Homo sapiens: one gene and its partners. The protein of the gene in region 2 purifies or fractionates together with the protein of the main gene of each other region. This does not show direct contact. Each region holds a gene or a part of one and is shown on either strand. Other genes may lie near its edges. The genes, in order: CTSB, SLC22A13, ACAA2, MAN1B1, CPT2, ATP2B1 and PSTPIP2.

Region 1 (3,500 bases), on a different chromosome or scaffold from region 2:
AACTGCTGAGGGCCTTCGTAGTGTCTGCTGTTTCAAGTGTACAGTAGTCATTTTGTCTGCAGGATGTGGGGTTGCTGTGGCTGACCTTGTACAATATTCCACTCATAGGTGTCTTCAGGCCTATGGAGAGCAGCTTGCGTGGGCTGGGCCTGCAGTACCTGGTTTGCATAGATGATTGGCAGGTGGGCAGCACGGGGAAGGACCTGTGAGTGGCCAACCTGGTTCAGGTGAGGGAGGTGGAGTGGGGCTTCTCTGCTTCCCCTGGTTCCCTGGAAGCCTCCAAGGCTGGTGAGCATCACTGCTGCCTCTGCACACCTGTGTGCTGGGTGGGTTTTCTGACAGGTTTTCAGTTGCTTCGGGGCTACAGCTGCAGGGAGCCTGCTCCATGGGACAGATGGGCCTCTGGTGCCCGTTCATCAGGGGACTGATGAGACCGAGGCCTGAGAGCCCTTTGGATTTTGTTTTTGTCCTTAATTTAATCATAAGCCAAGAATCTACTAAACACAGTTCCATTAGGGGCAAAGACGTAACACATCAGAGGCCACAGCAAGGCTGTGATTCATACTCAAAAAGGAAAGGTCTCTGGGTCACAACAGAGCATAGTTGAGGTCAGCACACTCCCACCCAGTGCAGGGCTGCTCCAGCATTGAGGTGTGTCTGGCAGGTTGAAGTAGGGGAAGATGAAACTCGCCGAAGTCTTGTTTTGTGGTTGCACTTAAGTGGTCAAAACTTCAGGAGCAACTGCCGTTATTAGCGGTGAGTGCCAAGACTAGTTTTTATAGAAGAGAAAGAAACAAAGTACTCTGGGAAGGTCTTACTGAGCCTTCACAGTCTCCCCACCTTTCCACTGTTCCCGTGCTCTTAGCCGCTCTGCTGGCCTATAAGGCACAGTCTTCATTTGTGGCTTCTGGCAAAATGTAAGCACTTGACTTTTGTTTTTGTTTTGTTTTGTTTTGTTTTTTTGAGACGGAGTTTCCCTCTTGTTGCCCAAGGTGGAGTGCAATGGTGCGATCTCAGCCCACTGCAGCCTCCACCTCCTGGGTTCAAGCAATTGTCCTGCTTCAGCCTCCCGAGTAGTTGGGATTATAGGTGCACAACCACCACGCCTGGCTAATTTTTTGTATTTTTAGTAGAAATGGGATTTCACCATGTTAGCCAGGCTGGTCTCGAACTCCTGACCTCAGGTGATCCACCTCCTTGGCCTCCCAAAGTGCTGGGATTACAGGTGTGTGCCACTGTGCCCGGCCAACTTTCAATTCTTTAGAGCTGACTATGAGAGGAGCCAGCAGTATAGCCACAGCACCAACGAATGAGGAAGAGCAAAATACTGCATGACAGCTTTGCTAAGAATTCTTTCACTTTTTTTGTCTATCAGCCAGGAGCTAGCAACTTGGCTTATTTGGAAATTTTAAGTGTACATATCCTGTCTCCTTAAATCCTTTACAGATTTAAAGTGCAGTCTACCTGAGGGCTCTGTGACCATGTAAGAAAGCTTTTTCTTTCTTTTTTTTTCTCTGAGACAGAGTGTTGCTCTGTCGCCCAGGCTGGAGTGCAGTGGTGTGATCTTGGCTCACTGCAACCTCTGCCTCCTGGGTTCAAGCAATTTTCCTGCCTCAGCTTCCTGAGTAGCTGGGACTACAGGCAGCACCACCATGCCCGGCTGAGTTTTGTATTTTTAGTAGAGACAGGGTTTCACCATGTTGGCCAGGCTGGTCTTGAACTCCTGACCTCGTGATCCGCCTGCCTCAGCCTCCCAAAGTGCTGGGATTACATGCGTGAGCCATTGTGTCCGGCCTTTTTTTTTTTTTTTTTTTTTTTTTGAGACAGAGTCTCGCTCTGTTGCCCAGGCTGGAGTGCAGTGGTGTGACCTCAGCTTACTGCAACCTCCGCTTCCTGGATTCAAGTGATTCTCCTGCCTCAGCCTCCCAAGTAGGTGGGATTACAGGCACCCACCACCGTGCCTGGCTAATTTTTGTATTTTTAGTAGAGACAGGAGTTTCACCTTGTTTAGTAGAGACAGGCTGGTCTCGAACTCCTGACCTCAGGTGATCCGCCTGCCTTGACCTCCCAAAGCGCTGGGATTACAGGCATGAGCCACTGTGCCTGGCCAGAAAGCCTTCTTTATTGAGCTTGGTGGCAGCCCAAAACTGATTCTTTAAGGGTGTCAGGACTTAACACCTCCTGTGACTTAGCCGCACCTCCTCTCCTTTGACTTTCATTCCACCTCCTTCCAGGATCGCAAGGTCCCTATTTGTCCTGGAAACGGCTTCAAGGTAGTCTAGGGTGCCGTTTGCCGGGGGAGGAAGGTGCTCTGGTTGATAGAGTCGCCTGGCCGCACACTCTTTTTGGCACATAACAACGTTCTACAGAGCCGGGGTGGAGCGTGCTTTCTCATAAGTGCTCTGCAGGTTTGGAGAGAGAGGATATGAGGAGCACCCTTTTCTGTTTTTTTTAACCCAAAGATTAGCTTGGAAAAGGGGCAGAGGGGTGCACTGGAACTCAGGTCTGCCTAAGCAGCACAGCAGACCAAGGTCTAGAGATGACATCTGCTCGCAGCTGTTCTTCCACCAGCCCGCATCCTGGAAAGGGGTCTTGTGGCACACAAGAGTTCACATCCTTCCCTCGTGAAATAAGGACTTTGTGTTCATCATCTCTTGTAAGAAGCAGAGCAGAAAGCACAGAATTAAGAAATAAAAGGGAAGTGGGTGCCTATATAAAGGGAAGTGAAAATGGGTTGCTGTCCCATGCAAAGACCCTGGAAAGCTGTTAACAGCTCAGCTTGTCACTTTCACCATCTGCATTTGTCCAGAGTGATTGAGATTTGCGTTGTTGTGGAGAGAAAGGCGCCTGTTGCACAATGGAGTGAGATTGCCACTGCTGTCAGGACCTCTGTGTTTGGCTTGACACTTTTTGAGTTCTCAGCAGTCTCGGGACCCTCAAGAGTGGAAGCATTTTTGGATGTTAAATGCTGGGGTTAATTGAAGTTAAGAGCTTGTTTTACTGGGCATGGTGGCTCACACCTATAATCCCGACACTTTGGGAGGCCAAGGCGGGCAGATCACTTGAGTCCAGGAGTTTGAGACCAGCCTGGGCAACATAGCAAAACCCCATCTCTACAAAAAATACAAAGCTGGGCGTAGTGGTGTATGCCTGTAGTCCCAGCTCCTTAGGAGGCTGAGGGGAGCAGATCTCTTGAGCCCAGGAGGCAGAGTTTGCAGTGAGCCATGATCGTGCCACTGCACTCCAGCCTGGGCAACAGAGTGAGATCCTGTCTTAAAACAAACAAAAAAAACAAACTTGTTTTCATTTAGACTCTTCCTGGCGTTGGGGACCTATTGGAATAGGTTTAGTGTGAACTGAGAGCTAGAAGTGTTAGAGGAGAGAGGGAGGGAACAGAGCCCGCTGGAGCGAGTGCCCTTCCTACCTTATCACTGCATGCCAGGCATGTGCCGGCGCTTTGGTCCTCCTCATTTCATTCTTGACTGCCACCTGAGACACGA
Region 2 (3,500 bases):
GTGTTTTCTAAACTAGATCTAGGAAGTGGAATGTGGAATCAATCTGTCCTCCTCCCTTTAAGGACTGTCCACTGGTTAATAAATTTTTTAAAAGACTAAAAAATAAACTCCTCACACACAAACACCCGCAAAACAAACAAACAAACAAACAAACAAAAAAAACAGCATTAAGATGTCCCATGTTACTCTCGAGGGGAACCAAGGAGCAGCTTAACAATTAGCATTAGTGTACTAGAGAGTCATTACAAGCATGCCTTGCTTTTAAGCAAACAAAAAAATTTTTTGAAGCAACAGAACAAACGAGTACTGATCACTTTTCTGACAATAAACAATGATTCAAAAGTAACTAGTATTAGGATGGGGAAGGGAACCATACCTATGAGCCTTGTCTTGCAAGAGTATATGTTGGTAGGATTAGGCATTTGTCATTATTGCAGAGAATGAACTTCAATTTTTTTTTTTTTGAGACAGGGTCTTGCTCTGTCACCCAGGCTGGAGTGCAGTGGCGAGATCTGGGCTCACTGCAACCTCCACCTCCTGGGTTCAAGTGATTCTCTGACCTCAGCCTATCAAGTAGCTGGGACTACAGGCATGCACCACCATGCCCGGCTAATTTTTATATTTTTAGTAGAGATGGGGTTTCACCATGTTGGCCAGAGTGGTCTCGAAGTCCTGACCTCAGGTGATCCACCCGCCTCAGCCTCCCAAAGTGCTGGGATTACAGGTGTGAGCCACCGCGCCTGGCCTAATTTTTAATTCTTAGTTTGACTTAAACCTTGCTTTTAGTGTGATGGCGACAAAAGCTGAGCTGAAAGGGCTTTGGAGAGATGTTCACAGCAGCACATGCCTGAGGCTCTCTCTTCTTTGGCTCTGGAGGCTTGGTTAACAGCATTCTTTTTTTATTTTATTTTATTATTATTATACTTTAAGTTTTAGGGTACATGTGCACCATGTGCAGGTTAGTTACATTTGTATACATGTGCCATACTGGTGTGCTGCACCCATTAACTCGTCATTTAGCATTAGGTATATCTCCTACAGCTATCCCCTCCCCCCTCCCCCCACCCCACAACAGTCCCCAGAGTGTGATGTTCCCCTTCCTGTGTCCATGTGTTCTCATTGTTCAATTCCCACCTATGAGTGAGAATATACGGTGTTTGGTTTTTTGTTCTTGCGATAGTTTACTGAGAATGATAATTTCCAATTTCATCCATGTCCCTACAAAGGACATGAACTCCTCATTTTTTATGGCTGCATAGTATTCCATGGTGTATATGTGCCACATTTTCTTAATCCAGTCTATCATTTTTGGACATTTGGGTTGGTTCCAAGTCTTTGCTATTGTGAATAATGCCGCAGTAAACATACTTGTGCATGTGTCTTTATAGCAGCATGATTTATAGTCCTTTGGGTATATACCCAGTAATGGGATGGCTGGGTCGAATGGTGTTTCTAGTTCGGTTAACTGCATTCTTTAGGCCCTTCTCTGTGAGTGCAGAATGCTCTGCATACTCAACAGCCTTCCAGTCCGAGGCCAGTCTGGAGTGATAGGCTTCTGTTTTTTGTTCTTGGCAAGTTTTACAAGAGTAGAGGGATCATTCTCTGAGATGAATTTGGGTCTCGACAAGCAAGAAAGGAATCTTTGGATAGCGGTGAGTTATCACAGGCACCCACTTTTCTTTCACATTTTTGAATGAGGACGGAGATACCACTGAAAAACTGACTAGAAATACATCTGTTTGTAGATACTTAGCAATTGCAATCTTTTATAACCCTCTTGCCCAGAAGTGTCAAAAAGTCCAAGAGCATATGGCTCTCCACCAACCATAACCATGACCACATAGTTGTTAGAAATAGTTGGTACATTTTCAGATGTAAATTTGTTTGTTGTGTAGGATATCGGTATGTTTTACCAATGGCATCATTGCTTACAACAGCACACTTAATGGTCTGCATTGCTGAAATAGTTTTGTATTTACTTTAAATATTTCGAACTTGATGTTGACCTCAGCTTCTCCCTGGGGCATGGCGGCACTCAGGACCTCTCTCCTAGACAGTGCTGGCATTGCAGTTGGAACTTGGGCCTCTCACTCTACCCTAACATGCTCTCCTCACCCCAACTCTTCCAAAGACTGTGACTCCCAAGGAAATGAATGCTTTGTGCCCTGCACCACATGCTAATCCCAAGCTCAGTTCCAGAGTGCAGCTGGCTTTGTGTGATCTTCTATCTCTGGTTTTCATCTATGAGGAAGGGTTCTGCCCATTGACCCAGAGGACCCTCTCTGAGCTGACACCTAAGCTTCTTTATTATAAATGGTGACTTCATATTTAAACTTAAATGCAAACAATACTAATTTGAAAAGAGAAAAGTATATTTCCATATAGGCTGTGTGCTCTTGAAGGTCAGAATATGTTTCTCCTTTTCAACCTACATTTCCTGGGCGTCCACCCTTGGTAAAAGAAAAAAAATGGGCTGGGTGCAGTGGCTCGTGCCTGTAATCCCAACACTTTGGGAGGCTGAGGCAGGAGGATCACTTGAGCCCAAGAGTTCAAGACCAGCCTGGGCAATATAGTGAGACCTCATCTCTACAAAAAAATAAAATAATCAGCCAGGCATGGTGGCACATGCCTATAGTCTCAGCTACTCCAGAGGCTGAAGTAGGACAATCGTTTGAGCTAGTAGTAAGCCGTATTCATGCCACTGCACTCCAGCCTGGGGAGACGCTTTCTCAAAAAAAAAAAAAAAAAAAAAAAAAAATGACTCCCCTGTCTACGTGGACCTTGGAATGGGAAGGTGGGAAGACCATCAATGAATAGCAACAATCATGTGATCTGTCCAGCGACCAAAGAAGTAGGAATAGGAGAGAAGGGGAAGCAGAAAGAACAACCATTTCTGGGGTCTGGAGGCGTGAAAATGCCTGGCATATTTAGGAATGCTGACATGGCAAAAGAGACTGGGAAATAGGCAACAGCTAGCTCTTCAAGGGCCTTAGATATAGTGCTAAGGAATTTGGGCTTTCTCCTAGAGGCCAAAGGGAGCTGTTGAAGGTTTTGGAATAGGGGAGGGATCCGGGATGGGGTATACGCCAAGAAATGAGGGTGGGATTCTGCAGACCACCATGGCAGGCTGCAGACAGAACCATCCACTGTGGGTGTTGGGGCTGGGGAGGATGACTGGCATCCCAAGTTGGAGCCCTCTTCATCTCTACCACCTGCAACATGACAACACCATGAGAGCTCAGGCATATCTCGGCGCCTCTCCAAGCCTCAGTCTCTGCTGCTGCACAAGGGGAATGATAAGCCATTATGGGGTTAGAATGAGGATTTAATGTCATAGCAGGTATATAAACTGAAGAGAGGTAGTGAATGGTGGCTGTTGACCAGGTGTGCCAGCCTTAGAAGACTCCAAGGCTTGGTGCTCATGCCCACAGGGCACTTCACCCCCTTGTGTCTGAGCTGTCTGCCACCAGGTGAGAGCTTTGTGAGCACAGAGGCCAGCA
Region 3 (3,500 bases), on a different chromosome or scaffold from region 2:
AGTACTGTATTATCATATGATCTTAATTCAGGAATTTTATAGATAAGGAAACTCATTCTAAGAAAGGTAACTTTTGCAGAGTTGGGATAAAATTCAGTCTTGTGCTCTTTCCTACTATACTTTGTGGTCTCTCAAGATGGTGCCTCATATGTGCTTAGATCCACCATTATCTTTCTACTCTATATACAGAGCCATCTTCAAGGAGGTACTAAGAGACCTAGAATAGGTAGTGAAACTAGGCTTTTGAACCTAGGAAAACTATGGTCTGAGTTATGTCCTTGAGAATGTATACATTTCCAAATGATTATGAACAACTTCCCAAAGTTGATATAGTTTAATAGTTTTAAATGTGAGGTCTAAAGTGAGAAATTTAGTGGTACCTATTTGCTGACACAAATATAATAAATTAAACAGCCTCTTTGAGGCTCTGAACTGTGATCTGCTAAAAGTGGAAGAGATTTAAAGATAAACCATTTGTCTGAAATCATGGTTTCCTGTGTGAGAGATTATCATAGAGGAAATCACACCTGTGCCTACCCCTTCGCTATCAAGTTAAATAGATTTCCTTTGTTCTATTAGTTATTTCCCAATGCCAGGCATCACATGCTTAATCACCTAAAATTTTCAAATAAATATTCCAAAAGTGTGGAATGTATATAACCATCTTTAAATGTTTCTCCACCTCTTCTTTTAATTATGCTTAAGACACTTTAGTTCTAATACTAACATTTAAAAAGAAATCACTCAATAAATTTAAGTTCCAGTGTCAAAAATTATGATAGGTGCATCCCAAATCAAGCTACAACTATCGTATAAAAGCCAAAGATACATTTAAGGGAGGGGGCTCTATCTGGCGAGAAGGGCAAGAAACTTGTAGATTTGGCACTAAATATTGCTTTTCTATTATGTCAATTATTTTACATATATTTTTTCACTTTAATATTCAACAGGCATGTTAATAGTCTAAAATGTAACAGTTTTATAAAGTAGTAAGAAATTCCCAGGAATTTATACTTGAGTAAGAGAAATCAGGCAGTTTGAATATTCAAATATAAATAAAGCATGTTAACCAGGTGGGGAAAAGTATCAACACAAGGCATCTAATGAAGGTACTATTTATTTAGATGTACATCATTTGGAAAGGCTAACTACAATGAAATTCAAAGAGCAATGAGACCAAATTAAAGTCATTTATGCTATAAAAGTACATGGTTTATTCATGTTGTTAAAAAAAAAAAAAAAAAAAAAAACACTTACCTCTACCAAATCCATGTCCTTAAGACTCAGTCCTGCTTTCTTCAGTGCCCCACTGATAGCAGGGACAGGACCTATATAATAATAAAAATCTTCTATAAAAATATAGAAATAAATGTCATCTTATATTTACGTATCAAGCTTCTCCTTCTTTCCAAGTAAGGAAGAAATAATGCGGCAGTTATTAGTAGCCACAAATCTTACTACCTTGACCGTACCTATTAAATGAAGTGACCATAAAGAGGCAGAAAAAGGGCCCAGGCATGGTGGCTCATGCCTGTAATCTCAGTACTTTGGGAGGCTGAAGTGGGAGGATCACTTTAGCCTCCTGGGCAACACAGCAAGACCCCATCTCTAAAAAAGAAAAAAAATAATAATAAAAATAAAATGGAACCAAGGTGAAAAGTTGTTTATACATTCAAACTGCAGATAAGAGAATTACATGAAAAGTTCTACCATAAACGGCTTTAAGATTGAAAACAGCCAAAGGAGTCCATATATGGGATTTTAGTTATGTTAATAGATTATAATTGATATCAAAGAGCAAGGCAGACTGAGTGCTCTACTTGGGATCCAAGCCATATGCATTCACAGCACAGAAGTTACTGTGGCTACACTCTGAATTTTCAGGCCCATTTGGATAAAAGACAAGAAATAGCAGTATCTCCACATGGGCACAGAGAGATGGGAAACTACGAGGCACTTCAGGGAAGGTTTTATGAAGTAAGGTGATGTTTACAACTCCAAGGGTAGGCAGGAAATTTAAATAAAACATAACTCCTAATTTAAGAAATGCAACTCCATCTAATAAGACTTCTGAAATAAACTTTAGCTCCCAGATTTCTGATGATGTAATGAGAGTTTAATATTGCTCATAATTTAAATCCATATTTTTTCTCAAAAGGTAAAAAATTTGGGTAGAGAAGATTATCTACTTCTCGACTTGTTCTTAAAGAATGAAACTGCCAAAAATGTCTACAAAGAAAAATATGTAGTATGTTCTGCTGAATTCAAGTAGTCAAATATTCTGCATCAAGTTTCACAAGCATTTTACCTTATAAAATGGAAAATCAGTCTTTACAAGAAAGGCATAATGAAACCTAAATATAATATTTATTTTGTCACGTAGTTAAAATACTCTTTGGACAACAAACCACGTGCTTATTGATTAGGACTATCCAGTTAATGCACTTCAATTTAAAATGCCAGTTTCATGTGGCTACTGATTTACTACAGCTACTGATTTACTACAGGATCTGATTCCAGATTCTCTTTGTATGTCTAAAGCATGAAATCATGAAAATGAGATGGGTAGTCAGTAGTAAAGCATCAGTTATCCAGCCTGGTGAGGGGATGAAGTAGCCAACAGTGGTGACAGACACATAAAAGGTGGACAATGTTCAGACCACTGTACACACTTCCTTGTCTGCATAAACAACACAGCAAGCATGACTCGTACTTTCACTTTAACTCAGAATCCACCGTAACAATATGCTAGGCCATAACTCGATTTTTAAAGGACTCTTCCCAGACCACTGTTATTTACTGGGACTTCAGGAAGGTTTAGTATTCTTGTTAGGAAAAGGAGACCTTATTTCTAGTCCTGGTTCCTGTCACTAATAGCTGTGCGACTTTGTGCATCTCTCTGGGCAACAAGCTACTCATCAATAGCACTCTGAATGGGTTTTCCACCTTTTTCTCTTTAAGCATCAGAATTCTTTTTGCATATGATGCCAAGTAATAGATAATGCCAGACTGCTCCAGCTGAAGAGGCTCAAAGTTCCACCCACCAACCTCTACCATTGCCACCCCTGAGGAGTTCCAGGGAGTGCTGTCTTTCTATAGCTGTGTATTTCCTCAGAACCAGTACTATTCTTTTCAAGTCATGGCTTTCCCCGTTTTTTTTTGGTCTGCAGCTATTCTGCAGGGCTAAGGATTGCTAGTCATTAGGTAATCATGGAACTGAGAACCACTATTCTTGTAAGTTAGATTAACAAACCAGTTCCCACTAGATACTTAATAACTTATTCTCCCCACTTATTCATCTGGGATGCTTCAACGAGTTACTTTGTTTAATCCCATCACTATATACAAGTGACAGCCAAACTTCTAGATGAAGGGGGCAGCTGATACTGTGGGACATCTGGAATGTACAGCTCTGTTCAAGCCCCGAGGAAAAATGACAATCCTACCACAGGAGCATTCTTTGTACTTTAGGGCAAATATTCAGGCCCAGGAACAGAAGG
Region 4 (2,850 bases), on a different chromosome or scaffold from region 2:
GGCCGCCGCCCCTTTTACCTTGGCTTCCAAGGTGCCTGAGTCATGATGTCAAAAAGAACGAAATCCTGGCCATGGCGCCCACGTGGAGGCCCTGGGTGGACCGTGGCTGCCTGGCCAGGCCTGTCTTGGCAACAGGGCAGTAAGGCCTTGTGTGGCACCTGGGGTGGGCAGGGCTTCCCCAGGGCAGCTCCCTCCCCGTGCCCGGTGTGTAGCAGGTCCTCGGGCGGTGTGTGGGGGCCGGGTTGGAGGGCCTGGTCCAGGCAGCTCCGCTGTTCCATGCCAAGTGCCCTCGCGTGGCCTCCCCTCCCAGGGTACCAGGGCCGAGGCAGCGCTGGGCTCCCACGTTGGCTGCCCGTGCAGCTGCAGGCTGAGGGCAGGGCCTGGGATCTGGGGCTGAAGAGACCCTCTGATTCCAGGACCACCTGGTGTGCTTCCTGCCAGGGACGCTGGCTCTGGGCGTCTACCACGGCCTGCCCGCCAGCCACATGGAGCTGGCCCAGGAGCTCATGGAGACTTGTTACCAGATGAACCGGCAGATGGAGACGGGGCTGAGTCCCGAGATCGTGCACTTCAACCTTTACCCCCAGCCGGGCCGTCGGGACGTGGAGGTCAAGGTGGGCCTGGGCCTGGGTCAGGGTCCATCAGGAGGAGGGTGCTGGCAGGGCTGGCCTTGCCCTGAGCTCTGCTCCGCCCACAGCCAGCAGACAGGCACAACCTGCTGCGGCCAGAGACCGTGGAGAGCCTGTTCTACCTGTACCGCGTCACAGGGGACCGCAAATACCAGGACTGGGGCTGGGAGATTCTGCAGAGCTTCAGCCGATTCACACGGGTGAGCACCTGTCCTCGCCCCGCGTGGTCACGGCCACCGGGCCACAGGCACGGCTGGGCTGTGGGGCTCAGGCTGGCTCCGCTCTTGGTGGTGGCTGTGACCTGGATCCGGGAGGGGCGGGCTTGCCGCAGCCTCGGGGTGGCCACACTGCAGCTTGGGGGCCCTGGCATCCCCATCCCCACTGAGCTTCATGGTTGTGGGACCCAGAGTACTTGGAGGGGCTGGGCACCCCTCATTTTCATTTCTCAGGGCCTGTCTAGGGAGGGTCTCTGCTGTGGGCCCAGCATCCCCCCAGTTTAGGAGGCACACGCACCCATGACTGGGGCACCATCCCCACTGTGGACCAGGCCCTGTTTTAGGTCACGCCCTCCACGCCAGAGTGTCACTTCCTGGCTCTGCTGTGATCTTGGCCTGAGGCCCCCGCTGCCTCCGCTCCCACCGTCTGCCCTGTGCCCTGTGCCCTGTGCGGCAACTGTGAGGCCCCCTGAGCCCAGGTTCTGGGGGAGGCGGTTTCTGTCGTGGTCACTTGAGGGTTGTTGGCATTTCCAGGTGGGCTCCGGTGGAACCACACGGCTCGCCTGGGGGTGGCCATCATCCAGGCGCCCTCCACCCTGAGCTTGCGCTGGGGGCCACATTCACCATGGGGTGGAGAGCGCTTCGGTGATGAGGCTGAGGGGGGTGCAGGGTGCCCCCCGTGTGGTGACGAGGCCCTGGCTGCTGCACAGGTCCCCTCGGGTGGCTATTCTTCCATCAACAATGTCCAGGATCCTCAGAAGCCCGAGCCTAGGGACAAGATGGAGAGCTTCTTCCTGGGGGAGACGCTCAAGTATCTGTTCTTGCTCTTCTCCGATGACCCAAACCTGCTCAGCCTGGATGCCTACGTGTTCAACACCGAAGCCCACCCTCTGCCTATCTGGACCCCTGCCTAGGGTGGATGGCTGCTGGTGTGGGGACTTCGGGTGGGCAGAGGCACCTTGCTGGGTCTGTGGCATTTTCCAAGGGCCCACGTAGCACCGGCAACCGCCAAGTGGCCCAGGCTCTGAACTGGCTCTGGGCTCCTCCTCGTCTCTGCTTTAATCAGGACACCGTGAGGACAAGTGAGGCCGTCAGTCTTGGTGTGATGCGGGGTGGGCTGGGCCGCTGGAGCCTCCGCCTGCTTCCTCCAGAAGACACGAATCATGACTCACGATTGCTGAAGCCTGAGCAGGTCTCTGTGGGCCGACCAGAGGGGGGCTTCGAGGTGGTCCCTGGTACTGGGGTGACCGAGTGGACAGCCCAGGGTGCAGCTCTGCCCGGGCTCGTGAAGCCTCAGATGTCCCCAATCCAAGGGTCTGGAGGGGCTGCCGTGACTCCAGAGGCCTGAGGCTCCAGGGCTGGCTCTGGTGTTTACAAGCTGGACTCAGGGATCCTCCTGGCCGCCCCGCAGGGGGCTTGGAGGGCTGGACGGCAAGTCCGTCTAGCTCACGGGCCCCTCCAGTGGAATGGGTCTTTTCGGTGGAGATAAAAGTTGATTTGCTCTAACCGCGATGTCGCCTGTGTCTTTAGGGATCTCCATGACTGGAAAGTCTGGGCGGACGTTGGGGAGAAGGTATTCTTCAAGTCACGTCTCAGAATTCGGTTTGCTGAGACTGGACTCTAGCTGTCCCCTGCTGGTGGGCAGGGAGAGGCCACGGGGAAGCTCCGTGTCCCTGGCCCCACGGGGCAGATGCTTGGCGGGAGGCATCCTTGCGCCTGCGTTTCACACAGGGCCTGTTTCCCTGCAGGGCTGGCACTGAGGCGCACAGCTGAGGGATACACGGGCCCTCAGGTCAGGCAGCTCCCAGCAGCCTGGCATGGCTATGGCCCCGAGCCCTGGGCTGTGGTGGCAGAGTTGTCCTCATCATCACTCTACTGCTGTCCCTATCCCAGGGCTGACCCTGGGCCTTGGCTGGGTTCCCCCCGACCCTGAACCAGGTGACCTCTTAGGACCACGCCCCCTCGCTCTCCCCTGTGAAAAATCCATCACCTTCACTTCCGGAAGA
Region 5 (3,500 bases), on a different chromosome or scaffold from region 2:
AGTATATCTTATATTAGGCTTTTAAACTGCTTTATGTATCATGTTTCAGTTTTCCTAAATGACTGATACATTTCAGTATTTTGCATATCAGTGTTAATTTTGAGTTGGTAGAGGCAGCCTAACAAACTCTGATTGTTTTGCTATTAGGGGATATTTCCTTCAATAAAACCAATGAATTGAAAGAGAAAATACACCTCACTTTACTGTCCATGTGTTTTCATTTCACAATAAGCCAGTAACTTCATCACCATAGCCATCTTTGGGAATCACTAGTAGACAGAATGATAAGTAGGCAAATTGCTGTTCCTGTTATTTAAGCACAGGGACTATTTGGTTCTTCCTAATGGCGTTCCTGGTATCTGGGCATGGCTCACTGGTCGATTCCTACCTTTTAGTGACTGTAGCCCCCATATATGGCTGGCCCTTGGACAGATCTGTGTTTCACTCTTATATAATTATTTGTTGTAAAATGCAGAAGAAAATTTAAAAAATAGAACCTTTTCATTTTATCCTAGGGGAGAAAAATGCAGTTGTTCAAACTAAGGGTAGAATTAAATCAGGGCCAATACAGTGTTAGCACAGGTGTTATCATTGTGACCAGAAAACAGGAATTCTTGGGGCAGCTTCTGCTTCCCCATTTTGAATCTATTATTGTTATTTAAAATAATTATATTTGTATTTTACTTAAAGATTTAGTTGTTATTTTACTTAAAAGTAGAGTTACCATTGATATACTTGGCATTAGTAAACCCATTGATTCTGATTTGTCAGTCGCTTCTGATTATTGGTTTTGGGGGAGGAAATTAATGATCTAGTAATCAGTTCATTAGCTTGTAAAGCTAATTAACCTCTTCCATATACTGTCAGCCTTACACTGACCCTGCTTTCTCCCCAGGCTGCCTATTCCCAAACTTGAAGACACCATTAGGAGATACCTCAGTGCACAGAAGCCTCTCTTGAATGATGGCCAGTTCAGGTAAACACTGAGAACCTTGGGTGAGCATAGTTGGGGTGGTTCAAGACAGGCTGGCAAGTAGTGGTGGACCAAGCTTCAGGGAATGTCTGTGACGTGGCTGGGTCTCCAGGAACCCAGAACCTAGTTGTACATCTGCAAGTTCAGGAAATAGATTTTCATTCATGAAGGACTGACCAAGCCCCGAGAGTTCCTCTAAACAGGCTCAACAGGAGATAGTTTATAAGCCAGAATGCCAAATGTGTACTTTCCCTTAGCAGGTGTACCTGGGAGGCTCGCTGGTCCTGGTCATTTATAGAGAGCATGTACCCTTGGAAGGGAGGTCCATTGAGGAGACCATACGGCAGACCAGAAGTCTGCATCGTGAGCATGTTTATTGAGTTGGATAGCATGCCTCCAAAATTTATGCCCTTTTTCATGAAATTTAGTATATGATCTTATTTGGAATTAGGGTTGTGGCAGATGTAATTAGTTAAGATGAGGTCCTACTGGAGTATTGTGGGTCCTTAATTAAATATGACTGGTGTCCTTGTAAGAAGACACAGAGACAGCGGTGTGAGGACACAGGCAGAGATTGTGTCCTCTGCCTGTGTCAACAAGCCAAGGCATGCCAGGGATTGCTGGCAACACCAGAATCTAAGAGAAAGCCATGCAACAGATTCTTCCCCAGTCTTCAGAGAAGATATAGTCCTACTGACACCTGGATTTTGTCCTTAAAGCTTCCAGAACTGTGAGAGAATAAATTTCTGTTGTTTTCAGCCACCCAGTTTGTGGTGTTTTGTTATAGCAGTCCTAGGAAGCAAATACAGCATGGAATTGGAAAATAATATCAAATATTGTCAAAAAGTGGATTGCATTAAGCTCTTATAGCCTAGTGTAGTACTCTTTTTCCATAATGGAAATTTTTCTGTACAGGTAACTGGCATTGTTGTTGGAATCACAGAACTCTTCACTGGACAGTGATGGAGAAGCAGATGAATTATCCATAATCTAGGCCTCTGTTTTCAAATATTTGTTATTAGTCATTTAAAGTTTCTCTTGATATGGTAATAGCTACCAGTTATTGAGTATTATGTTTTAGGATATTCTAAATCCTTAGCTTTATAAATATTTTTAATCTTGTAAAGTGGTATTATTATCCATTTTACACATCAAGAAACCGAGACTCAGATCAAGTAACTTATCCAAGATCACACAGTTTGAAAAGCAACAGAGCTAGGATTCAGACTTAACTTCTGTTGACTCCAGAGCTTGTGTCCTTTTCTCCATGCCAAACTGCCTCCTAGGATATGGATTATTTTGTGAGATGTTGATTGATTTTCCTAATCATTCATTTTAAGAAGGTAGTCTAGATTATCAATTTTAGATTGATTCCTGTTCTGGTTAGAGGTACTTTCTGATCTCATTCCAGGTTTTAGGGCTATGCTGTTGGGGACCCAAAACTCTATTATGAGTTCCTCGCCATGAACCTAAAAATCATGTATTCCCTACCATGGTTTGATTTTGTCTTTTCTTGAATGTTTTAGGAAAACAGAACAATTTTGCAAGAGTTTTGAAAATGGGATTGGAAAAGAACTGCATGAGCAGCTGGTTGCTCTGGACAAACAGAATAAACATACAAGCTACATTTCGGGTAGGTAGGCTGGGCTGTGGGTATGATTTCTCCCAGAGCCCTCCATAATGAAAAGTAAGGCATATTCTCTCCTGTTTTGGTCTCAGAGATATTTTTGGTGAGACCAGCAAATGAAGTAACGTCTCATCCTCCCTTCCTGAGGTAAATTAAGGCTGAGTGTGTTCCTCCTCTACTGAGGTGTTGACTTGAGCCCATGCTCAAGAATGATGGCCAGCCTTCTCTGTAGATGGGATTGAGGCAGAACCTAATCAATGGTCCTGTCTGAAAAGGATGCAGGATTAAGTCCTATGTCCTATATCATTCTGGGTCCTTCACTGTCAGACAGAACTGTCCTCTCCAGCCTCTTCTCTCACCACCCACCCTGACATACTTCCTGCTAAACTCCTCATTGCTCCCTGAACCCTTAGTCTTTCATTCTTTTGTGCCTTTATCCATGCTGTTCCCACTACCATTTTTTTGCCTGGCAAATTCTTCTTTTAAGATCCAAGGAGGATGGTTTTCTGTGAAACCTTCTCAGTCCTTTTTCCTTTCCATTCAGAGTTGGTTGCTTCCACCTCTGTTCCTACAGCACTTCTTTTAATTTAGTTTATATATTTACCAAGGTTATACATGCATATAGTTTAAAGAATCAGACAGTTCTATAAGGCTTGTTAGGAAAAACAGCAACTTCCTCATCATCTTATTTCCCACTTCTCACTTTCAGCTCCTAAATCTTTTGTTATATACCCCCGTATCTCTAAATTAGATACTTACCTTACTGCATCTTGATTTTTTTGCTTTAGTCATTAGCTATTGACATCTCACTGTAGAAGATTAGAATTCAGCAGTACTTTACATCCCACCACATATGTGGGATGTGTATACACATACTTCCTATCCCCTTATTTTCACAGC
Region 6 (3,145 bases), on a different chromosome or scaffold from region 2:
GTTTTATTATTTATGAAGTGGTTAGAAAAAAAAAATCTCTAATATTGTTCAACAAATTCAGATAGGAAAAATCTTCTCAGAATTGAAGTTTTGCTAAGAAGGGATTTAATCTTTCTTTGCCTGCCACCGGTGTATGTGTGTGATTGTGTGTGCACATATACTTGTTGCCCTCACCTTTACACTCTGCCCCTCTTAGAGCTTCACTAACTCTCAAATCTCTAACTTAAGTTTACACTTTTCTTCTGAGCTCTAGATATTTTCCAAATTTAACATGTTTAAAAAGTACATTTATTTCCCCCCGATTCTTCACTGCTCACTTTTATACCGACTGATTACAAAGAAAAACAGATGGAAAACACACACATACACAGAAAGCTTAACTGTTGTTCTATCTTCAGTAGCAGCAGCACCAGCAACCTTATCAAATAAGCAACATCTTCAGGGTTGTCTTGAACAGTTCTCATCACCCATCAAGTTTGCTGGCTGATCCTCTAATTTGTATTCTCCTCCGTGCCTACGGGCTGCTGATACCAACAAATTTTTTTTTAGAAAGTTATCTTTTTGCATTTTAAGCTTTACAGTTTGTTATTAGGACAGTCAGGATACTTGCTGAATGTTCACATGTATAAAATGTGAATTTTAAGACTTCACAATAAAACACTGAATGAATTACTATAACGTTATATTTAGCAAACATTGTTTACATTCCATATGTAGAACACTTTACATCTTAGTAAAGGGGAAGAGGAACAAGAGCAATAAAAGAAGTTGAAAAATATTTGCTGCTATTCATCAGTCAAATTAAGGAACTGAAGTACAAGCAATCAAATAGAATGGAATTATAAAAGATGGTAAAGCTGCAAGACATTAATAGAATAGATGCTTGCTGCTCCAAGTGTGGATCATGGACCAGCAGCTTTAGCATCACCTTGGAGGTTGTTAGAAATGCAGGACTTTAGGCCCCTGCTGAATCAGAATCTGCATTTTAACAAGATCCCCAACTAATTTGTATGCACATTAAAGTTCGAGAAGCCCTGGCCTCGATACTTGTGACCTAACATTGTTTTAAGTTTGTAGTGTGCTAACGAATTTAATCTCCCACAACAACCCCGTAAGGCAAGTACCATTGCTATTTCCCATTTTATAGTTGAAGAAACCTGTTTGACCGAGGTTCCTCAGGTAGTAAGTGGCAGAGCTGGAATTTACACCCAGACATTTTGCTTTTGTATTTCTCAGTTGACTATGCTGTACTCTCTATATAAAGGGCTAAGTGAATATGGACTAAAAGCAGCTTACAAATAGGGCTTGGCAAATAAGGAAAGACAACTTGAAGGTGAGATGTGGGTGCATGGCCCTAAACTCTACATTACATTTTTTTAAACACATTCACATGTTCATTTGAAGAAATGTATTATTCATTATTGCTGTCTAAAGAGATGAATTTGGTGACCGCATCTTTTTTCTAGAATGTCAAAGTGTTATTTATTTCTCTTAACAATGAGTAAATGATGTCTTTATTACTAAACAGGATTTATTAGAATCAAAGCAAAAGCAAACACTGTATTTGAATTGATACATAGTAAATGCTCAACTAGTTGGATTTTGTCCTTTTTTTTCTAAATCTGAATGACGCTTGAGTTAATAGCACTTAATGTCAGTGTGTGCACTGATGTTTTTAAGTTTGATTGCCCACTAATCTTTTTCATTTATACAGCAGACTGAGAGGAAGATGAATTGTTGAGCTATCTGCTTAGGGGTGAAAATACTAGAAAACTTTTAACACTTTGTGTCTTCTTGGGAAATTTTTCACAGAAGAATCCCAGAGGATTTGTTTTTGTTTTTGATCTATTCTTTCCAGATAACTGTAGTAATTGATTTAAGTTTTAATCTGTTACAGAGAAAAACACTAAAACTTTATAGACAAATGATAGACAAATGGCATATACTCAAATATTTATAGCTGTTTAATGGCATTTTATAGACATTTATTTGGGTTTTGTTCTTATTTTTGTTTTTAATTAAGGGAGTAGTGGGGTAGATGTGAGTTCATTGTGGCATTCAGCTTATATTTGCTTGGCTTTTTCATGGTCGGTGACACCCTAATTCCTAGCATGATAAATAGTAACCCTTTGTGCTTGATTTTGTTTAACTTATTTGAGTTGTTTTCAAAATACATTCTTTTTAATTTAAAAAATCAGCTAAGCTTGTGTATGGTTAAGTTTTTGTTTTGTTTTGTGTTTGATTTGTTCTTTTAGGGAAAAAATCCTATAAAATGGCTATTAAATTTTTAGCCAATGACAATGAGATTTTCTTAATATTACTTTGAATTCTTTACCTCTTAATTCTTAGAGTATGTGGTTTTGTTGTTCTGTAGTGTCTTACTAAAATATTCATTTTTTTACAGTGTATTGCAAGTTCCACTGCATTACATGCAAATATGATTCACTCATACCTAGCTGTTTGTGGATTCAAACTCATAAATGAACCATTTTTAAGTTGTTAATAGTGTACTGACATATTTCTGTATTTTCTGATATTTACAGATTCGAGTGGTGAATGCATTTCGTAGTTCTTTATATGAAGGGTTAGAAAAACCGGAATCAAGAAGTTCGATTCACAACTTTATGACACATCCTGAGTTTAGGATAGAAGATTCAGAGCCTCATATCCCCCTTATTGATGACACTGATGCCGAAGATGATGCTCCTACAAAACGTAACTCCAGTCCTCCACCCTCTCCCAACAAAAATAACAATGCTGTTGACAGTGGAATTCACCTTACAATAGAAATGAACAAGTCTGCTACCTCTTCATCCCCAGGAAGCCCACTACATAGTTTGGAAACATCACTCTGATTGTAAGCTGAATGTTAACACACTAGCTGCATTGTAAAGAAACAAATTGAAACTGGGTCTTTTCACATATTGTGATGGACAAGCTAGTATTCTTGTCTTTGGACTTCAACAGAAGACACACTTGTACGAATGTAGATTTATTTTTTTAAAAAAAAAAAAGCAAAGCTTTCTGCCAGACTGAGGGTGCTTTTTGGGGGGTGGGAGAAATGAACTGACAGATAAACAGTAACTCAGCGTAAGTGACCTGTGGATCATCAGTAGTACCCAAGCATGGTCCTGAACAGTGTATT
Region 7 (3,500 bases), on a different chromosome or scaffold from region 2:
GGAAGAGCGACAGAAGCATGGCTATGAGGGAGGGAGATGGGGTGATAAGAGGTTGGAGGGATTTCCCAGTTGTTGTCATTTTTCTTAAAGACTCAGTTCATGTATTCTTTGTAGTCAGGCTGCCTTTTGCTTGGGTGGATTACAAATTTAACTTTGTAAAATCTAGATACAAGATTTCTGCAACCAGAGGGCTGGGTGTGTCTTTAGGAAGACACTGGGCAAGATGCTTTATGGATATTTTCCAAGATTGATAAGATTGCAGGGCACGTTGAATGATTTGCTCATGAGGGAAATGTACACAGGACTTGCACTAGACCTGGTCTCTTCATAGTTACTGCTTTTCAATCTGTTTTGCCTGTGGAAGCCTCGTCCAGCATTCCCAATGCTTGCTCTTTTTTTGTTTGTTTGTTTGTTTTCACAGCTTTTTGTGAAACTGGCAACTTCAAAGACCGCAGTAGAGGACTCAGGTGAGGGGGCAGTTCCTACGGATGGGGGAGGGTTGCTGGTGGGGTTTACGTTATCCTAAATGTGTCCCTGAGAAAGGGAGTTTTATATACCTTAAAGAGAGAATATATGGATATTCAGCAGGATTAGTGAGATATCTGAAGGGAAAAAGGGAGGAAGGAAGGGAGAGAGTAAGGAAGGGAGGGAGGAAAGGAAAGAAGAGGAGAGAGGAAGGGAGGGTATATTAGAACCCCGGAAGGTGGGAGGAGGCTATGAGGCCACTGTTTCTGGCTTCTGTCTGCTTAGATCTTGCTGCCTTACATGGGAGTGAGATGGTGGAGTCATGTGGTAGCGGCTTTGCAATCAGGTGCTTCCTCTGATGTATTGGGGCATCTATCTAAAAGACCATTTCAGCCCCGGTAGCTCTTATCTGCTGTGAAACAGCCAAGCTGCAAGGCCTTGTTATCACTGAAATCTAAGACCCAAACCAGGCATTTGCAAAAGCTTCTAATTCCCAGAATATCCTGCAGGAAATATCCCTCATGACTGTGGTGGTTATGTACATCTTAATCTCTACATTTGAAACTAAAGTAACTTGGTGCCCCTTTAGGGCTCAAGGTAGTTCTCTTCTCTGCATCCTTCATCAGACAATTTTGAAAATGAAAAGCGATGGGAAATACTGAGGTGGAATTACACAAACAAAACCCTGGCTGAGGTTTCTTATCAGCTTTCACTTCTTCCTTAGAACCTTTCTTTCTCAATGTTAGGTCCAATGTTTAAAAAGAAAGTGATACCCTCCTTTGCCTACTTCACCAAATATGATGAGGGTGAGAGATGCAATAACTCCCAGTGCTCAGAGTCCTGGGGGCCTTGTAAGCTCAGCACAACTCGGATGAGTTTCTTTTGCCATCTGAGACCAGCCTGTGGGTGTATCTGCGAGCCACCTTCCTGTCTAGTTTCTGACCCAGGTCTCTCCCTTCTGTTGCAGACAAAGCATACATGCTGCACATCGGCACCCTGGATAAGGTCCGAGAAGAGTGGCAGAGTGAGCACATCAAGGCCTGCGAGGTACCCGTAACCGGAAGCTGCTCAGGACTGGGGTGGGTGGGTGGGGGTGTGTGTAACAGGAAGCTGCTCAGGACGGGGGGGGGAGGGGAGGAGGGGGAGGGGAGGGAGGGAAGGGGGAGTGGGGCCGGGGGTTGGGGGAGGACGAGGGGGCGGGAGGTGGGTCTTCTGCCCAGAACCTGGAGAGTCTACTTTTGTAGAAATGATCTGCCCGGATTCTCATAGGGTTACAGAGCTTGAGGGCAAATTAGAAATCAGAAATTTGGCCAGGCACGGTGGCCCATGCCTGTAATCCCAGCACTTTGGGAGGCCGAGGTGGGTGGATCACCTGAGGTCAGGAGTTCAAGACCATCTGGCCAACATGGTGAAACCCTGTCTCTACTAAAAATACAAAAATTAGCCGGGTGTGGTGGCGCACACCTGTAATCCCAGCTATTCTAGAGGCTGAGGCAGGAGTATAGCTTGAACCTGGGAGGCGGAAGTTGCAGTGAGCCAAGATAGTGCCATTGCACTCCAGCCTGGGCGACAGAACAAGACTCCGTCTCCAAGAAAACAAACAAACAAAAAAAGAAATCAGAAATTTAAGTGAAGAATGGAAGGAACTGGAATAGTTTTCCCCAAACCTTGTCTGCCTCATCCCCATCCTGACCATGCTGTCCAACAGTTCAAATTTTAGTCTAATGTTGGGTTAGCACAAGCATAGAATAGCTGAATCAGTTAATGGTCGATTAAGTAATTATCTTTGGAGAGCCCGGCCTCAATAGGCTCTAAAGGGAATGCCAACAGCAAGTGAGTAGGCTTTGGAGATTTGTTTGTTTGCTTTTTGTTTTGAGTCTGGGTCTCACTCTGTCGCCCAGGCTGGAGTGCAGTGGCATGATCAGAGCTCACTGCAGCCTGAAACCCCATGAGCTCAAGTGAAGTAGATGGGACTACAGGCGTGCACCACCACGCCTTGTTAATTATTTATTATTTATTTTATTTTTAAAGAGACAGGGACTTGCTCTGTTGCCCAGGCTGGTCTTGAGCTCCTGGGTCTCAAGCAATCCTTCCACCTTTGCCTCCTGAGTTGCCAGGGTTACAGGCATGAGCCACCATGCCTGGCTGGAGGGTTTTCTTTTTTTTTTTTACTCTCCTCATACCTTCAATTTCACCACTGCTCCCTTTCTTTTGCAGCAAATGACCTCACAATTTCCAAGAGAAAATAAAAAACATAACTTGGAAGCTTGCTTAAGTTTCTGTCATCCTGCCTACACATTTTCTTCCAGTGGTTCTCAAAGTGAGGTCCTAGGACTGGTAGCATCAGCATCACCTGGGAACTTGTTAGAAATGCAGGTTCTCAGACCAACCTCAGACCTACCGAATCAGAAACTCTGGGGGTAAAGCCCAGCAATCTCTGTGCTAATAAGCCTTCCAAGTGATTTTGATGGGAATTCAAGTATAAGAATCATTGACAGACACGCCTGCCCCACTCCTTTTTTCCTGTTAGCACAGAAAAGGGGCTGTTCCTTCCTTGTTCAAGATCTTTTTTCATCCAGCTTGCCTTTCCCCACCTTCTTGGGCATGGAGAACTTGTCAACTTCTGTTATCTTGCACACAGACTCAACTCTCTCCTAGCTTTAAAACCCACCAGTTCAGCCAGGCATGGTGGCTGCTAATGCCTGTAATCCCAGCACTTTGGGAGGCCAAGGCAGGCAGATCACCTGAGGTCAGGAGTTCAAGACCAGTCTGGACAACATAGTGAAACCCAGTCTCTACTAAAAATACAAAAATTAGCTGGATGTGGTGGCAAGCACCTGTAATCCCAGCTACTTGGGAGGCTGAGGTGGGAAAATCACTTGAGCCCGGGAGGTGGAGGTTTCAGTGAGCTGAGATCATGCCACTACACTCTAGCCTGGGCAACAGAGTTAGACTCCATCTCAAAAAAACCCAAAAAGCAAAAAACAAAACCAGCAGTTCTTACTTTCTATCTACGACCCCTACTACCCCCGCCC

The links.
Region 1: the proteins of SLC22A13 (region 2) and CTSB purify together in Homo sapiens (affinity purification with mass spectrometry; one large-scale study listed by BioGRID and IntAct). This does not show direct contact.
Region 3: the proteins of SLC22A13 (region 2) and ACAA2 purify together in Homo sapiens (affinity purification with mass spectrometry; one large-scale study listed by BioGRID and IntAct). This does not show direct contact.
Region 4: the proteins of SLC22A13 (region 2) and MAN1B1 purify together in Homo sapiens (affinity purification with mass spectrometry; one large-scale study listed by BioGRID and IntAct). This does not show direct contact.
Region 5: the proteins of SLC22A13 (region 2) and CPT2 purify together in Homo sapiens (affinity purification with mass spectrometry; one large-scale study listed by BioGRID and IntAct). This does not show direct contact.
Region 6: the proteins of SLC22A13 (region 2) and ATP2B1 purify together in Homo sapiens (affinity purification with mass spectrometry; one large-scale study listed by BioGRID and IntAct). This does not show direct contact.
Region 7: the proteins of SLC22A13 (region 2) and PSTPIP2 purify together in Homo sapiens (affinity purification with mass spectrometry; one large-scale study listed by BioGRID and IntAct). This does not show direct contact.

What each region holds. Positions count from the first base shown.
Region 1 is NC_000008.11:11,858,088-11,861,587, reverse strand, and holds part of CTSB (cathepsin B isoform 1 preproprotein), read left to right. Parts: intron 1-108; exon of another isoform or gene 109-227; intron 228-3,500. UniProt on the Homo sapiens protein: Thiol protease which is believed to participate in intracellular degradation and turnover of proteins. Cleaves matrix extracellular phosphoglycoprotein MEPE. Involved in the solubilization of cross-linked TG/thyroglobulin in the thyroid follicle lumen.
Region 2 is NC_000003.12:38,268,812-38,272,311, forward strand, and holds part of SLC22A13 (solute carrier family 22 member 13), read left to right. Parts: intron 1-3,500. UniProt on the Homo sapiens protein: Anion antiporter that mediates the transport of urate, orotate and nicotinate in exchange for organic or inorganic anions. Translocates urate and orotate across the apical membrane of proximal tubule epithelial cells and involved in urate renal reabsorption.
Region 3 is NC_000018.10:49,786,034-49,789,533, forward strand, and holds part of ACAA2 (3-ketoacyl-CoA thiolase, mitochondrial), read right to left. Parts: intron 1,329-3,500; coding exon 1,258-1,328; intron 1-1,257. UniProt on the Homo sapiens protein: In the production of energy from fats, this is one of the enzymes that catalyzes the last step of the mitochondrial beta-oxidation pathway, an aerobic process breaking down fatty acids into acetyl-CoA.
Region 4 is NC_000009.12:137,106,834-137,109,683, forward strand, and holds the end of MAN1B1 (endoplasmic reticulum mannosyl-oligosaccharide 1,2-alpha-mannosidase), read left to right. Parts: intron 1-416; coding exon 417-614; intron 615-697; coding exon 698-829; coding exon of another isoform or gene 830-1,129; exon of another isoform or gene 1,130-1,545; intron 1,546-1,554; coding exon 1,555-1,758; 3' UTR 1,759-2,350; downstream 2,351-2,850. UniProt on the Homo sapiens protein: Involved in glycoprotein quality control targeting of misfolded glycoproteins for degradation.
Region 5 is NC_000001.11:53,199,824-53,203,323, forward strand, and holds part of CPT2 (carnitine O-palmitoyltransferase 2, mitochondrial isoform 1 precursor), read left to right. Parts: intron 1-895; coding exon 896-976; intron 977-2,499; coding exon 2,500-2,606; intron 2,607-3,500. UniProt on the Homo sapiens protein: Involved in the intramitochondrial synthesis of acylcarnitines from accumulated acyl-CoA metabolites.
Region 6 is NC_000012.12:89,590,694-89,593,838, reverse strand, and holds part of ATP2B1 (plasma membrane calcium-transporting ATPase 1), read left to right. Parts: intron 1-2,543; coding exon 2,544-2,855; 3' UTR 2,856-3,145. UniProt on the Homo sapiens protein: Catalyzes the hydrolysis of ATP coupled with the transport of calcium from the cytoplasm to the extracellular space thereby maintaining intracellular calcium homeostasis.
Region 7 is NC_000018.10:45,995,761-45,999,260, reverse strand, and holds part of PSTPIP2 (proline-serine-threonine phosphatase-interacting protein 2), read left to right. Parts: intron 1-421; coding exon 422-467; intron 468-1,432; coding exon 1,433-1,512; intron 1,513-3,500. UniProt on the Homo sapiens protein: Binds to F-actin. May be involved in regulation of the actin cytoskeleton.